Regions from separate parts of the Homo sapiens genome. Here region 2 is linked to region 1. Evidence: fine-mapped expression QTL. A gene starts in region 1. The other region holds a variant in brackets. All regions are shown on one strand. Distances are from middle to middle.

Evidence for each region. PIP is the estimated chance that this variant, and not a neighbour inherited with it, causes the effect.
Region 2: its variant is fine-mapped to the expression of PERP in subcutaneous fat (TwinsUK, PIP 0.90).

Annotation. Positions count from the first base shown.
Region 1 is chr6:138,102,567-138,110,906 of GRCh38, forward strand. It overlaps PERP (p53 apoptosis effector related to PMP22), which reads right to left and starts at 4,853. Exons shown (of 3, transcript NM_022121.5): 1 at 4,561-4,853. The coding sequence starts at 4,774. RefSeq lists a silencer at 4,982-5,031.
Region 2 is chr6:138,003,829-138,012,168 of GRCh38, forward strand. No RefSeq gene overlaps it. Among named protein-coding and RNA genes, the nearest start is that of SIMALR, 62 kb to the left of the region's middle. The variant C/T (reference allele first, on the strand shown) is at 4,665.

The sequences.
Region 1 (8,340 bases):
TCCCTTTACAGGACAAACACGAGTTAGGGGACACTGAGAAAGGAACCGAGGCTCTCTGGGGTGGCTACTGCTGAGTGAGGCACATGTGGAATGAATGGCCTGGACTAGATTACTGGGTCTTAAACGTTCTAGATGTTATAAATCATACGTACTTTTAAAAATTATTAAATCAATAGAGTGGCCAACTTTTTATTTTTTGCTGTGTAAGAACTTGAATGCATACATGCTCGTGCAAAGAGTAATCTGTCTGCGGCCAGGCGCGGTGGCTCACGCCTGTAATCTCAGCACTTTGGGAGGCCGAGGTGGGCGGATCACGAGGTCAGGAGATCCAGACCATCCTGGTTAACATGGTGAAACCCCGTCTCTACTAAAAATACAAAAAATTAGCCGGGCGTGGTGGCGGGCGCCTGTAGTCCGAGCTACTCGGGAGGCTCAGGCAGGAGAATGGTGTGAACCCGGGAGGCGGAGCTTGCAGTGAGCAGAGATTGTGCCACTGCACTCCAGCCTGCGCGACAGACCGAGACTCCGTCTCAAAAAAAAAAGAGTAATCTGTCTGCTAATGCCTAATTTCATAAATTAGGTACAGTTTTGTATTTTTTTGGAGACTGAGTCTCGCTCTGTCACCCAGGCTGGAGTGTAGTGGCCCAATCTTGGCTCACTGCAACCTCCGCCTCCCGGGTTCAAGCAATTCTCCTACCTCAGCCTCCTGAGTAGCTGAGATTACAGGTGCCTGTCACCATGCCGGGCTAATTTTTTTGTATTTTTAGTAGAGACGGGGTTTTACCATGTTGGCCAGGCTGGTTTCAAACTCCTGACCTCAAGTGATCTGCCCGCCTCGGCCTCCCTAAGTGCTAGGATTATAGGCGTGAGCCACCACACCCGGCCAGGAACAGTTTAATACCTTTCCCTACCCCACTCCCCACTGAAAAAACCACAAGGGCATAATCTCAAAATGAAGTCCTTTCAATCAGTGGTCCCCAACATTTTTGGCACCAGGGACCAGTTTCAAGGAAGAAAATTTTCCTTGGTTTTGGGATGATTCAAGTGCATTACCTTTATTACACACTTTATTTCTAGTATTATTACACTGTATAATATATAATGAAATAATTACACAACTCACCATAATGTAGAATCAGTGGGAGTAACAGTCTGTGGCCTCAGGGTTGGGGATCCCTGCTTTAAGAGGAATTTAGACTAATGTGAACTATTAACTTGTACTTACTTTTCTTATTTCTTGTACATTGGAGAGCCACAGGGCTAACTGACCTAAAACTATTTCATGTAATACTGATTCTTTGACTTGGCCAACAGCGATTTCATGTTAAAAACAAACAAAATATTGATGCATTTACAGTATGCAAAGGGTGTCTTTGGTTAAAAAACAACAAAAAACCGGAGGCTTTGTACTTCCCAGTTTGGATTCAAGGCAAATGCTCGTCAATCCTCACTGACTCCCTGTTTCACTCTGGTGCACAAACTTATCACCATTATTCTCCCCTTGAACAAGCTGGAGCTTGCCTGTGATTTGAAATCTACACAGCTGCGGCTGAAAATATCCTCCTGATGTATTCTTTCTTAAAAACTAGAAAAGATGGTGCCAGCGGTGCAAAACTAGTATGAGTGAACATGCATTTAAATTTCACATTTTATTTATAGGTGAAATTTGAATGATTTCAATCATTAATCTATAGATTTTCTTTTCCTGTTTTGACAAATATAAACCATGATTTTTAAAAAATTCAAATAAGAATGTTTTTAGCTGGGTGTTAATTTAGCTGGTCAAAGAAAATATTCAGCGAATAATTTGGCTCCTTCACAAGGAAAAATGAGGTGATTTGGTCATCTGAAATTCTTAAACTGTCAGTAACAGTGAAAAATATAATATTCTGCTTTTTATATAGTTCTAAGGAATTATTTATCTTTATAAAAACATCCATATTCATTCGGATTATTGTCAATACTTGCCAGGAATAACCTGTGTCTTTACTACCAAAATGAACATATTGTTATGATTATCAACTAATAAGAGAGGTGTTGAAACACTTTGTAATAACAAGATTTTCTTAATAGTTACAACGGTAAATCAAAATATTTATTGCCTAGTACATATCAAGAAGTTTTTCAAAGTGGATGTACACACTCAATTCTCTATACGGAGATCTCATTTTAATCAGAGCCATCAACCTTATTCCTTGTTGCACAAGATACTGTGTGTTTGTGCATACGTGGGAGTGTGTGTAAACTGCTTACTTCATTTTAGATAAAGTACAAGCTCATGTAAATATATGGTTTTCAGTAAGGCCTTACTAAGGCTATCTGAAAATCCAGAGTTCATAGATGCCTAGATAATCGCCTTACAGTGTCGTTATACACAGCTTCTACAATTGTGAGGCAAAACTAGACAATGTGCATGCAGGCGATGAGACAGACGTATAATAAGCACTTAAACTCATCTTTGGCTACAACGGCCAGAGGTAGCTCCATATCTGCTGTCTTCTTCCCACAGCCACTTCATGACAGCGGATCCCAGATTCATGATTTGATTCCAGATCTTGAGCAAGAGCCGTGTGTAATGCATTACTGGCACTTAATTAACTTTGCAAAGGTAGCAGGAATAACTAAACTGAGTTGTTAAAGCTATTACCATTTACGAAAATCAGTCATGCTGCATCATAAACAGATTTTTCGAGATCCACTTAGAAAATCGAGCTTTTCCAAGGACCAATTTCTATGTCAAACTGAATTATAAACTATACACTGGTTAGTGTTTTCTTTACAATGAAAAAAATTAACATTTAGACTTCTAATTAAAAATTCAACCAAACTAAGAAAAAAAACCTGCTTATTGCCTTCCATATACAAAGCACTGTATCAGTCTAAGGTGGAACACCACACCCTAAAAAGGTGAGCTCATCCTGCAAGTCAAGAAAAATAAAAATGGCATTGTGCATGTTTCACAAGAGGGCTGTGGTCACAGCCAGAGCCCTGCAGGTCAAATCATGTCCCGTCAGTAGCACTGATCATAGTTCTGCCAATATCCCCGCCACCAGTCAAAGGCACGCTAGTCTTACTTTATATGTGGAGGATTACTGCATATACTTTGGGTCTGCATTAGTCTTTGGAGTAGGGTATAATTATCAAAGTATGTTTAAAAACACACACGCAGATCTGTTAGGTCCCCTAGAAGAGACTGAGTTCAGATGCATTTTAACTAGAAGATAGAGGTACATTATTTCAAAAAACAATTAATTCGCTTTAAAAACCTAAAACACTGGAGATGATACAAACCTGAGCTGGCACAGTGTATGGGTTTTCAGAGAAGAAAACACACAAACTGCAAAGAAAGCTGGAATTTTCTGCAGTGTTTACATTTTATTACCTGGCTAATGGGGACCATGCTTCCTTTTGTGGGGAAGTGACGTCCAAAGGATTACACAAAAGAAAGGGCACCAAGTTGCTGATATAGTCCCCCGGAAACACAAATAAACAGGATTGGGTTGGAAGCCCTGGGCCACTTCAAAGAAAAAAATCAAGTCAATGGTAATAGTAAGAAATGAAAACAGGCAGGGTAGCTTGCTGTCTGTGTTTAAAACTATTAAACCCGGTAGGTAAAGCCCATTTGGCTTTAAGGTTTTATTAGGCTCTCACAGACCCCATCTCCACCCCCACACACATTGCTAATCACAGTAGACCCCAGCTGTGATTCCCATCCACCCCCAGGAAAGGAGAGGGGGCTTCCCACTGTGAAAGAAAATGCCTTCTCAGACAAGAACTATGCTCCAGTCCTGACTTTCAGCAAGGCAAGCAGGGAGCTTCCTCCATGCTGGGAAAATGGCATACAGTACTTCACCTGCTAGGTACATTAAATTTGTCAACTCTGCTTCACGTCGCGAGTGTAGGGAATGTGTTTGCTTTTTAGATTTCAAATCGGATTAAAATAATTAAGTTTTCTAAACAACAATGCCATGCTTAAACCAAAGGACACGCCCTAGAACAAGAGCTAACAAGAACTAGCCTGACCGGTAAAGTAGACTGAAATATCTATTGAAAACGTTAACTGCTAAAACTGCCTGAAAGGGCTTTTTTAAATGAGAAAGTTTTTTCAGCTATATCAAGTTGAACGAATCCACTGATATTAGGGAAGGCACGTTATTTCAATATTTATATTTTAATCATAAGAAGAAACGAGAAGGAAGAGAAATGGGAAGAAATTTCAGGTCTCCAAGAAACTTTGTTCATTATATTTACTCATCTAAACTTGCAATGCTTGAAATAATCTTTCGTACGTAACCGACAAAACCCAGGAAAAAAACTATACAGTTTGAACTACGGCCTTTTTTTTTTTTCTGTTTCTGAGCTTGGTGTTGGCCACCCAAAGCTACTGCTGCTGCATTTGGTTCAGGTCGGATGCATGAGCCCGAGCTCGTCCTAAACAGGCATTCTGAAAAGCACTGGCTCCCCCGACCCTGTGAGGGCCCATCACGCGCGGCGGCTTTTGCAGGCCGCGGCCCCGAGGGCTTCCTGGAGGCGGCGACGGCGGCGGCGGCGGGCACTCACCGTACTCCATGAGGCTCTGACAGCCCTCCTCGTAGGACCCGCTGCCGCCGCCCTCTTGGGAGCATTTCCACCACAGCGAGGACGTCTGGCCGTGGTCGCTAGACTGCAACCAGCCGCGGCCGGCCAGCGCGATGATGTCGAAGGCGATGGCGCTGAGTAGGAGCAGGGGCAGGATCCAGCGGCAGCGCTCGCAGGCCAGGCCGCAGCGGATCATGTTGACGGGCGGCGCGGGGCCGAGCGGAGCGGAGCGGAGCGGGTCGGAGGAGCGCGCGGGACGGGCGACAGCAGAGAGTGGCCTGCGAGCGCGGGCGCCGCCACAAAAGCGAAGAGGCCGCGGGGAGGCGGCTCCCGAGGACGCCGCTCCGGGCGGCCCCACCTAGATTCCGGTGACTCAGAGCGCGCCCGCCCCGACCTGCCCTGCCGGGCCGGGGCGGGCGGGGCCGCTGGTAAACAGGCTGGGTTCTGGTGACACCGGGCGGCGGCGGAAGGCGGCCCGAGGGTCCCGCGCGTCCCACAACCCTCCAGTCCCGCTCTCCTGGCCTCTCCAGGCGCGTGTTTTGTCTTCCTGGCGCACCAACATATACACTTGTTTATCTGCACAGCGCCAGCCTAATATCTGACCCCTGATGTCGCATCGTGGGGCGGTGGTCAGCAGTGCCATATCTGAGTTTTCAGCAGTGTGAGATGGGTGTTCTAATTGCACCTGTGGATAAAGGCTGCACTCCTTTGGACGCGTGCACCCAAACCCAGAAGCCCGTCCCTGACCCCTGCTGACACAGGTGATCCCTTCCTCCTAGGCTCCGCCTTTGCACCTTGGACCGTGGCTCCCCGGGTACTCTTATCTCTTTGCATGCTGTTCTTTCCTGCTGGGTTGCCAGATTTTGGAAAGCGGAGGCGATGCTGAATTTATCTGTGTATCCTTAGTGTCCGGCACCGTGTTTGGATCTCAAGGGGAGCTCAGTGAATTTGATGAATGAACATGTAATTTAACAAATGCTCGCTTCCTTTCGGAAAGGCTTCATCTGGCTTCCCCAGATAATTTCATGTCGCCTCTGCTGCAGTCCACTTCCTATCACGAATCTCTACCTATTTAAACTGCACTCTCTCTACTCTTCATTTACTATTTTGAGGTTTTTCCAAATAAAAATCATACGTCAGCATGCAACCTGCATTTAGGATCCCCCCTTCGGTGTCCTGGGCTAGCTCCCGTCGCAGTTCTGACTCCTAAGATGTGACAGGAAGGGTGGGGTGGCAGCCAGGTGTGCCGCTGAGGACAAAGGAGTTCTCAGTGTCAGGCACCTCGGTGGCCTTGGGAAAATCACTGAAACATCGTATGGGGGTCATGTCTTAACCCTGTACCTCCAAAGATTTCTTCTGAATCCCCTATTTTTTCTGTTAATTTAATATAAAAGTGGGAACTACTTAAAAATATTTTAAATTGTATTCCAATTTGATATTCTCAATAGAAACAGAATACTCTTTTGACTTATGCCATTTTCTGGCAATTCTTGAGGACGAATAAAAGCATGGAGAAAGTATCTGAAAATACATGAAATAATTTCCCTAGCCTTCATTTTACATAATTCAAGTTTTACATAAACCACGTCATATATTTTTATTACAGGAAAATATTTTCACTTTCAAAGAACACAAGAGGGTGTTCTGCCAAAAGTTAATTTTGTATCGTGGAAGCTGTGTGAAGAAAATGGTGATATTTATGTTCTCAGGGTTTTCAAAAGTAATGAAGATATTTGTTTAATTAGCTATGTATAATATATTTGTGAGAAAAAAAAATTCTTATAAGTCAAATACTGACCAGAAGCAAAGTGGCTTCAGACAAAATGAGAGTTTTGCAGGCATCTTAATATCTCTGGATAATTTTGGACTTGATATATATAATTTATTTTCGTTATTCAATGAAACCATTTCCGATGGGCTTGAGGAAAAGAGCTCATTAATGCCGAGGTGAACACAAAGAGATTAGCTCTTCACAATTTCTGGAAGAGACCACATTGACCCTGGTGGGTTTCCAACAATAATATACCCAACATGTGGTACAGACTCTGGAACCGGATGGTTCAGGTTTACACGCTTTCTCATATTCGCTGTGTGACACTGGGCAGGTTAGTTCAGTTTTTTGTGCCTCCATTTCCTCATCTGTAAGACAGACAGTGCTAACCTCAGTGTTTTAATGATTGTTAAAAGAGCAAATTCATCTAAAGTGCTCAAGATAGTTCCTGCATATAGTAAGGGTTGATGATGATGATGATGATTTTTCATATAGGTTTTCCACTTTTGAACATTGAAAGAGGGGAATGTCCATGTTTCTAAAGGGCAAATTCTATAGGTGAATACCAACTGTAAGTGACTAAGTTATTTGAGACAATGCAATCATTCATCCTAGCCATATTCATAAAATGATGGCTCATAGAGAACAGTAGGCAGTTGGATAGTTCCCCCTGCTGGACAATGTAGGGATTGCGCCTGAGCACTGAGCACTTGGCAAAAATGTAAATTGCACCTACAGAAAGTTTTTTTTTAATTGAGGCTTGACTGACATACAAAAAAGTGATATTTAATATATACAACTTGACGAATTTGAAGATAAGTACATACCCATGAAACTATCACCATAAACAAAAAGGTTTTATTTTTCTAATTTGGGGTTATGGTTATAAAACCAATGACTGTTACCAACAAAAATATATAAATAAATAATTTTAAAAATAAAAATTGGTAGAAAGTAATAGTAATAATAATAATAGCAGCTAACAAACATCTGCTGGAGTTTACTATGTCCCAGTGGGTGTTTCACATCTACCTTATGAGGCATGTACCAGCATCTCCTTCATTTACACAAGGGACTGAGGCACAACGAAGTTAAGTAACTTGCCCAAGACCATGCAGTCACGGAGTGGCAAAGCCAGGCTTCAACCTAGGCAGCCTGACAGCAGAGATAGTGCTATTCATCACAGTAAGCACTCGTAAGAGTTTATGGATGTATCCAAATGTCTCCTTTCTTCCCTTCTTTGGTCCTTGTAAACACCCAAACTACTCCTAGTTATCTCCCAAGCTGCAGTGACATGATCTCCCTGCCACCGTTCTGGGCATCTCTGTAGGACCATTGGGCCTTTGACATGGTTCTCTTGTGGCTGTCCAGTTGAGTCCATGGATGAAGTACCCTCCAGTAGATATGGAGTGATTGAGTTTCCTCTGGATGTGGCAAATGCTCCCACTGTCAACCATTTGGCAAAGATGCAGGGCCTTATTTTTCACATTGAACATTGATGAGATCACGTGATAGGTGTGGACCATTGAGAGTCCTTAATAATAGCATAGCCTGAGTTAGAACCAATAGCCATGATCCAGAAAACCAAGAGTATCTTATGTAAATTAACAGTGACTGTGAATACACAGTAAACGTCAACCCAGGATTCTTCGACCTCACCCACCCAGTCCTGCTCCTCTGACCTGATGAACACCTACTGACCCCTTGACCTCAGCAAAACTTCACTTCCACAGAAAGCCCCCAACTAGATTAAGTTCCCGTTACACATCCTCAAAGCCCTGTATGTCTTTCCTTCAAAACTTTTCTCACAATTTTAATTATATATTTATTCTGAATAATTTGTATCCACTCCCACTGCAATGTAAATTAGATGTTGACAAAAGTGTCACATGTTACCTCTCACCACTGTGTGCACAGTACCCAGTGCCTGGAACATGATAAAATTCCAAGAAACACTTGTCAAATGAACATGAGAATCTGTCTAGTCTCAA
Region 2 (8,340 bases), 99 kb before region 1:
TTATACCTCCCTAAAGGATGGTTTGCTCCTGGCCAGCTAGGGCAGGGAAGGGTGTGGGGTTAATCATTTTAAAAACTATGAATCAGATTCTGGGCTCACCAGTAGTTGAGCTGTTCTTTCTATAACTTCAGATTTATGCTGTATTCAGCAAATACGGACCCAGATACCTTCAAATATTAAGTATTTATCCTTCAGAACTTTAAGAAACACAGGTGACCAACCGTGCCTCATCGTCACAAGGGTTCAAAAATGAATGAGTGAATTTGTTCTGAAATTTGGGGTGGGAATGTAAGAATGAAATCCTTTCTACATAAAATTCCATTGAATGGGGCCACTGGGAAGGCATTGATTGCCCCTGGAGAGCAATGCATCAAAAATGAGAGAAAGGAAGAGATTTTTTGAGCCATTTTGCCTTTAAATTTAGCAACGATACTTTTTGACTTTTTTCAGCAAATTACTTAATAATGTACTCCAATTAGATAGAATCATATAAAAGAATCTGTAAAATACATTCTCCAACCAAACTTTCTTCCTGTTTAAATTGATATTTTGATATTAATTATAGTTTTCATTTATACATAAAAATAGTTATCACATTATATACATAAGTACCAGATACATAGCCTTGACTTTGAAGGAAAAAAAAAATCCTGGTGTTACTAAGTCCTGCTCAAAATGAAGACAGCTTCGCAGGATTTTCCCAAAGACACATCTTCCACAAATTATCTTGGTCCTCCCTAAGCAAGGATATTACAAACAATATAAGAATATAGTCCAGAAAATGTTAGCTAAAGACTGACACCCAGTGGCAGAGGTGATTTAGGTGGTGAATTACAGCATAGCTTCTTGCATAGGAGTGAGGGGTGCACGTTGTGGGTGTTTCTCTGTAATACATGGTTTTCATTGAAGACTCAGGGTCACTGAAGGCCAGATTACTTTAAAAATCTAAACATACATTCTTGACCTGAGTAATTTTTTTAATTGATCATTTGAATTCAATTGTAAATGTGGACATTCCCAGAGTGCACAGGAACTAACCACATTTTCTGCACCCTGTAGCCTCATGTGTTGCTTTGAACGTCCTTTCCACCCTCCAGCTGCAGTGCCATCCCATCCTTCTTTCTTCTTTGTCAAGAAGTAGGCACAGACCGTGGATCTCAAACTTGCAGGCATCCCAGCCATTGAGGGAACCTGTTAAAGAAGCTGATTACTGAGCCCACCTTACACCTACAGAATGGGACGCTGTAGGCACCAAGCTGAGAAGTCCTGTTTGAAATAAGCCGCAGGCTCACTTCTGTTGTGTGAGTCCTACAGCAGTGACTGACTTCTGTGTACTCTCCCTTCCTCTGGCAACTCCCTTAGGAAATTATTTAAGGTCAGTTATTGACAGAGGGCTTCTCAAATTTTGTTGTGAATCACATCATTGATTTTGATGCGGTGAGTCTGGGGTGGGGCCTGTCTTCTACATTTCTAACAAGCTCACGGGTGAGACTGCTGCTGCTGTCGGTCCTGCACCGCATTTTGAGTAGCAAGGGCAGGAAATCTGTGCCCTCTTAGAATGTAACACTGGAAAGTGGTCTCCCTCTTATGGTTTTTAAAATTGTGAATGTGCTGGTTTGAGCAATAAACTCTGAAGGTTGAGCATGCATATGCAGTACACGATTCTAATGAAATCAACTGTACAGCAAAATTAGCTGTCATTAACAATGTATCATCAATAATGTATAGGACACAGTAATTAGGTATAACTGCTGAGCCGGCCGCATAATTGTCATAATTAATATTGCTTTTACAGAAATCACATCTTTAGATTTTCTCTTCTCATGCGACCATCTTCCTCCCGATATAAAAGAGCTTTTAACCATCATGTTCTCCCTCACCCAATGATATGGGTAAGTTTAAAACCAGAGTGCAAATGATTTTGTCACAACATTTTATTTTTGACAAGGGGAATAATTAGGAAAATAGAAAGTTGTTTGAAAGGTAAATCATTAAAGAAAAAAGAAAACAGAGTTTGAAAATGTTAAAATCAAAATTTCCCAGATTCACAGTTTTGTTTAGGTTGACTTCATCGTTGTGAGCGCCATTGAAAGACACAGGTGTGGCTCACTCGAAAGTTTTCAGAAAGAGTAAACAGATTTTAACACCTGCCACTGATAGAGTAGGGAGGGGCCTAGGGATTGGTAAAAAGGATATTGACGGTGAAACACCCATATGAAAAGAAACTTCACAAACGTAATTTAAGTCTTTCATGATTGTCTATGACAGAGTGGTGGGGGAGGGGGAAGTGTTCTCAGAAACAAGGCTTTCCTACAGTAGGCAGAGGCATGAGAAGATTCAGGCACATCACTTCCTGCCAGGGATACTGTCAAGCAAACCCCAACAAAAGCAAGAAAATGATCATATTCCTTTTTTTGTAGTATTGCCTTCTCCAAGAGTCTATTTCAGCAATCCACTCTAGCCACCAGGTTGGAGCAAAAGAAATGAATACTTTATTCAGCTGACTCTGCACAGAAAATTAGCTCACGATATTTAACCAACGTAAGATACCCTCTTAAAGAAATTCAGCAGACAGTAACACTATAAAAAGATTTGCCAAAAAAAAAAAAAACACCAAGAGTTAATAACCTGAGTGGTATTTTCATTTTATTATGAAGAACAGAAAAGCTAGAAAAAAAGAAATAAAAACAATAGTCAAGAAACCATAAAGAAATACAATCATAAACTCCTGATCCTTTGATGGTAGGTAAGACAGAAGAGAAGGGACCCTTTCCCTGAGGGCCAATCTTGCAGCAGACCTGAATTACGAGGTGAGTTCTCCACCCTCTGCCTGGGAGCTGATGAGAGGGGTGTGATACTGTTTATAAGGCACTGGCTAGTATTATAAACTTCCCTCACTTCTATAATCTAGTCAATGTCTACATCTATTTCATTTATTGATACTAAGACATTCTTTAGAAGTTTCTACTTTAATTTTTTTCCTGCACAGTACACCTTAATTCTTAACTTTATAATTTTCTATTCTTCCTAATCACAAAAAAGTGTTCAGATAAGAAAAGCATTTTGAGAACAATTTCCTGTTAAGTTATTCAGGATGGTGTTTGAGCAACAAAGCTATTATAGAAATCAGGTTTTAAAGCATTTGAAATCAGCTGCCCTTGGCAGCCCATCTTTCCCAAGGAGCCCCACGGTGCATACACCTAACTGCGACCATTCAGTTGCCCTTGTCCTCTCCCTAAAATAAATCCCAATTGTACTCCCACCTCCTTCCAGCTTCCTTCTGCCCCCTCGTGGCAGAGACCAAAGTTGCCCTCTAACTTTGAATGTTCTCTAGGGCCCAGCACCACTTTTAAAAAGAGCAGTTTCTGGCTTTTCAAGGGTCCTCTCTGTCCCTGGGATTTTTAGGTGTCCCATGGGGCATTGCAAATTTGCTGAGTCAAAGTTTGTCCAGCCAGATTTGCACAGCACGTGGTGGTGGCGGTAGCTTACTTTGAGCTAATGCTTCAGTCTGCTTCACCAGGCAAAAGATGACTAATCTGGCCTATGAGAGAGGAATGAAGCTGGGCATTGTATAGTGTGATTTTGTGATGCAGGAAAGTCAGTTTGATGTGTGTTAGCCATAGTGAGACTACCCTAGGATGGGGCGGTGCCCACTTTACTCAAATCAGATCCAGGCAGGGGAGTCAGACCTAGCAAATTACACCATAGAAAATTATGCCTCCGAATGAGAAACTGCAATCTCAAGAGTGGGTAATTAGGGTTCCTAATTGCACAACATTATTGAAAGTTTCTCCCACCTCCTTCAGTGAAATAGCATGCCTCCCATAGATCCAACCCTAAAGGTATACTGAAAGAGATTTGGCTAGCTCTAAAAGAAAATCAAGTTGTATTCAAAGAAACTCAATAACAGCTACAAATGAAGCCACAGTTCTACTCTCTCTTCTACGTTGCACTCGGGCTCCCTAGAGGCAAGCTCAGTTACCCCATGCAATGATGCTAACCCAAAGGCAGGACTGGGGAAAAGGAAGAACCCAAGATACTATTTGGCGGGACACTACAGGCCAAAAGAGGAGCTGACCTTGACCTGGAGCTCTCAAAGTTGGCTGTCCATTGGAAACATCTGGGGAGTGTCTAAGAATACCAAGAGCAGTGTGCCGTTGACCTGGCTCTCAGGCGACGAAGTAGGAGTGGGGGCTGATTTGTGATTTGTCTTATTTGTCAATTGCTATAATACAAATATCACATTGTCGCCAATTTTTTTTTTTTTTTTTTGAGCTGGAGTCTCGCTCTGTCACCAGGCTGGAGTGCAATGGTGCAATCTCTGCTCACTGCAAACTCTGCCTTCTGGTTTCAAGAAATTCTCCTGCCTCAGCCTCCAGAATAGCTGGGATTACAGGCACCCGCCACCACACCAGGCTGATTTTTTATTTTTAGTAGAGACAGGGTTTCACCATGTTGGCCAGGCTGGTCTCGAACTCCTGACCTCGTGATCTGCCCACCTCAGCCCCCCAGAGTGCTGGGATTACAGGCGTGAGCCACCACACCGCGCCCGGTCACACCGCGCCCGGTCACACCGTGGCCAATTTTAAGCTACCAGAAGGATGTCACTGAATACAGAGTCGGAAAGAGAATTGCAACCAGAATGAGCCAGCTCCTGCACATCA[C/T]TGAAAAGACTGGGCTTAAGGAGTGAGGCCTGAGCATGGGGATATTTAAAACCTCCCCCAGGTGATTCCACTGTGCAGCCAACTTTGAGAACCACTGACCTCTCTGTGTAGCTTTCTTCCAGGCTGCTGCTGCTGGCGCCCTTCCATCGTCAACTCCACAACTCCCAGGTCAGTATATTCCCTTTATAATGCTGTTGCCACTTTTGGAAAATGTGCTTAGGGGAAGGTGCTTCTCTTCTTCCCCTGACATGCTAAGTTGCTCATTGAGGGTGCAGTGTGGATGCTCTCTAAAGGTAGTTCATTTATTAAAAAATATGTCTTAAATAATGCGTTTGAGGCACATGCTAGGCGCTCAGGAAACAGGACTGAAAAATACTCTTTGTAACTTCAAGGGGCTTATAGTCTGGAAAGAGAGAAAGAGTTAGCAGTATCAAGGGAGCATGGGGGAGGAGCCCAGAGAGCATGCATTGTTGCAGACACTGTTTATCAGCTAACCCAGCACTTTCTCAAACCCTTTGTCGTCTCCAAGATAACAACTAGAAAATCAAGTGCTGTGTTCCCCAGCTCCCCTTAAAGCCAGGCCTGGCAAGAAGACAGTTTTACTCAAGGAGAGAGGGAAGCTAAAATCAGCTGGGAGCCTCCAAAGAAGTTTTTGCTTTTAATGTTTAACAAAGAAAAAAATGAAAGCATATGCAAGGGTGGTAAAACCTCTGTCCCTGGAGCTCAAGGCAACTGCCTGGAGCTGATGCAGCCATCGTATAACCATGAGGTAAAAGCCAAAAGAATCACTGATACACTAGCACTAGCATCTTTTAGTCGTTGAAGCGATACCAGAAGCGGCCTCTGTTTGTCTGCAGGTGCGTAGGTCAGCATTTATCTGACTTGCAGCTGAATGCAATCAAAACTGGCAAACTGGTACAGGTATGGAATGCAAACTGGTACAGGTATGGAATCCAAACTGGAAGGTGGGGATAGAATGCTTCCTCACGGGGAAAATGAACAAGCTGAATCTTAGAAGATGAGACAAGTTAGTAATGGAGAAACATGGGGAGAAAAGGGTTCTAAGCAGAAGAGTAATATGAGCCAACGTCTATAGACCGTGAAGCATCCTATTTTTGCTAACTACAGGAATTGAAACTTGATCCTAAAGGCAAAGGTTAAATTTTGAAAAATTTTAGATTGAGAAACTATATGACCAAATATGTGTTTTAAAAAAATATTACCCTCTAATGTGGTCTATTGCTTCTAAGAATTTTCTTTTGCTTTTTTTTTTTTTTTTTTTTTTTGAGACAGGAAGGATCTCTGTTGCCGGGCTGAAGTGCAGTGACATGATCACAGCTCATTGCAGCCTCAACCTCCCGAGCTCAAGCGATCCTCCTGCCTCAGCCTCCCAAAGTAGTGGGATTACAGGCATGAGCCACTGCACCTGGCCACTTCTAAGAATTTTCTATTGAACTACTTAGTTTATAAAAGTGAAAAACCAGTAACAATCTAAACCTTACCCATAGGACATGGTGAAATAAATTATGGGACCACCCTATAATGGAATATTTTTACAACCATATTTTTAGAGAATATATTATTTTACTAGTGGCATAATAACTAAAGAAAAAAGTCAGCCCGGCATGGTGGCTCACGCCTGTAATCCCAGCACTTTGGGAGGCCAAGGCAGGTGGATCACGAGGTCAGGAGATCGAGACCATCTTGGCTAACACGGTGAAACCCCGTCTCTACTAAATATACAAAAAAAAAGTCAGCTGGGCGTGGTGGCGGGCGCCTGTAGTCCCAGCTACTCAGGAGGCTAAGGCAGGAGAATGGCGTGAACCCAGGAGGTGGAGTTTGCAGTGAGCCGAGATCGCACCACAGCACTCCAGCCTGGGTGACAGAGTGAGACTCTGTCTCAAAAAAAAAAAAGAAAAGAAAAAGAAAAAAATTACAATATAAAACCTCAACCTTTTAGGAAAAAAAAATGCATAGAGAAAAAGACTACAAAATTTTATGAAATTGTGACTGTGGTTCTTGCTAGGTAGGGAAAATACCATTAATTTTTATTTTTTAATTAATTATTTTCCAGATTTTTAAGTAACCATTTTTATCATCAGGGAAAATGTTACTTAAAATCTAAAAATGGCAGCCACAGTGGGGGCTAGCCTAGAAGCAAAGAAATCAGCTCCCAAAAACTGTCTGTTTTGCTTCTGGGCCTTTGTGCTGTGTAACCTAGAGTTGGAAAGTAATATTCTTAGGACATTCTCAAATCTTGCTCTTCCTTCCCACCAAAAGCATTGCTATGGGCCTGGCATGGTGGCTCATGCCTGTAATCCCAGCACTTTGGGAGGCCGAGGCAGACAGATCACTTGAGGTCAGGAGTTCGAGACCAGCCTGGCCAACCCGGTGAAACTCTGTCTCTACTAAAAATACAAAAATTAGCCAGCATGGTAGTGAGTGCCTATAAGCCCAGCTACTCAGGAGGCTGAGGCAGGAGAATTGCTTGAACCCAGGAGGTGAAAATTAGAATGAGCGGAGATCATACCACTGCACCCAAGCCTGGGCAACGGAGCAAGACTCCATCTCAAAAAAAAAAAAAAAAACAAAAACAAAAACAAAAAAACATAGCTATGGTGCTATTCCCCCATAAAGCATGTGTTGATTCTCTGGAGTCCCACCCTGGCATTCGTAGCCTTAACATTCCTCGGTGGGTTTTGACTCTGCTGCCTTCTTTAGCCCAGCATTTCCCACTACCTTGGGTGAGCCCCTTTCCACCCTCCTTGGGGGTAAGAATTCATATATTTTTGATAACCCTGGGAGCAACATGATGAGTGTTTGTGTTCCACGTCTGTCACAATCCCTGCCACGACTACTGTTCCAGCCATGGTTTGGGTCATGGGACTCTTCATTACCAAACACGGTGGACTGGGTTGGACAATTGCTCAAGAGCAGTTATTCAGTGGAGTGGCATTTTCAAACTGAGCCAGGTCCATCCATTTCTTGCCCTTGGGGACTTGAATTGGGAAGTACAGAGAGAACCAGACAGTAGGAGCTAAAGTTGGAGTGATGTTTAGATGAAGGTAGGAGGTCATGTTGTGATCACAGCAAGTCATGGCCAAGCAGCAATGAGAAGGCAGAAACTATGAGTAGGCAGATTCAGTGATGTATGCAGGAAAAACATATGCTGAGTAAAGGGGTAAATGAGATGTACTGAGAGGCAAACAGAGCAGACCCCCCCCAGAAAATAGCAGACTCCTATAAATGGAGGAGAATTAGAGTGAAGTTTCAGAAACTCCAGGAGTTGAGGTTCTTAGAGACCGCTGCCTTGACAGAATACTGGCTGGTCTACTGTTTCTTATTTTGCGTTTTGGTTCATCTCCCTGTATGCTATGTGTTTCCTTAAACTAAGATACCCTACCTCCCTTTGTACTTCCGTTAACCTAGGTTACAAACGTCTCTGTTTCTTAAAGTCAGAAAGACTGAACTTGAATTGATTGGTCCATCTATTTACTTGTATATTCCCTTATTCATTCTTTCATATATTCTATAAAATATAGTGAAATTGTGCCAATATTCTATGCACTAGGAACAAGATGATATATGGTACAATACCTGCCCTTAATGATTATTCAGTATTAGCCCTTATGATGGTGATAGAGAGAAAAATATGAGTGACATTTAGAAGGATAGA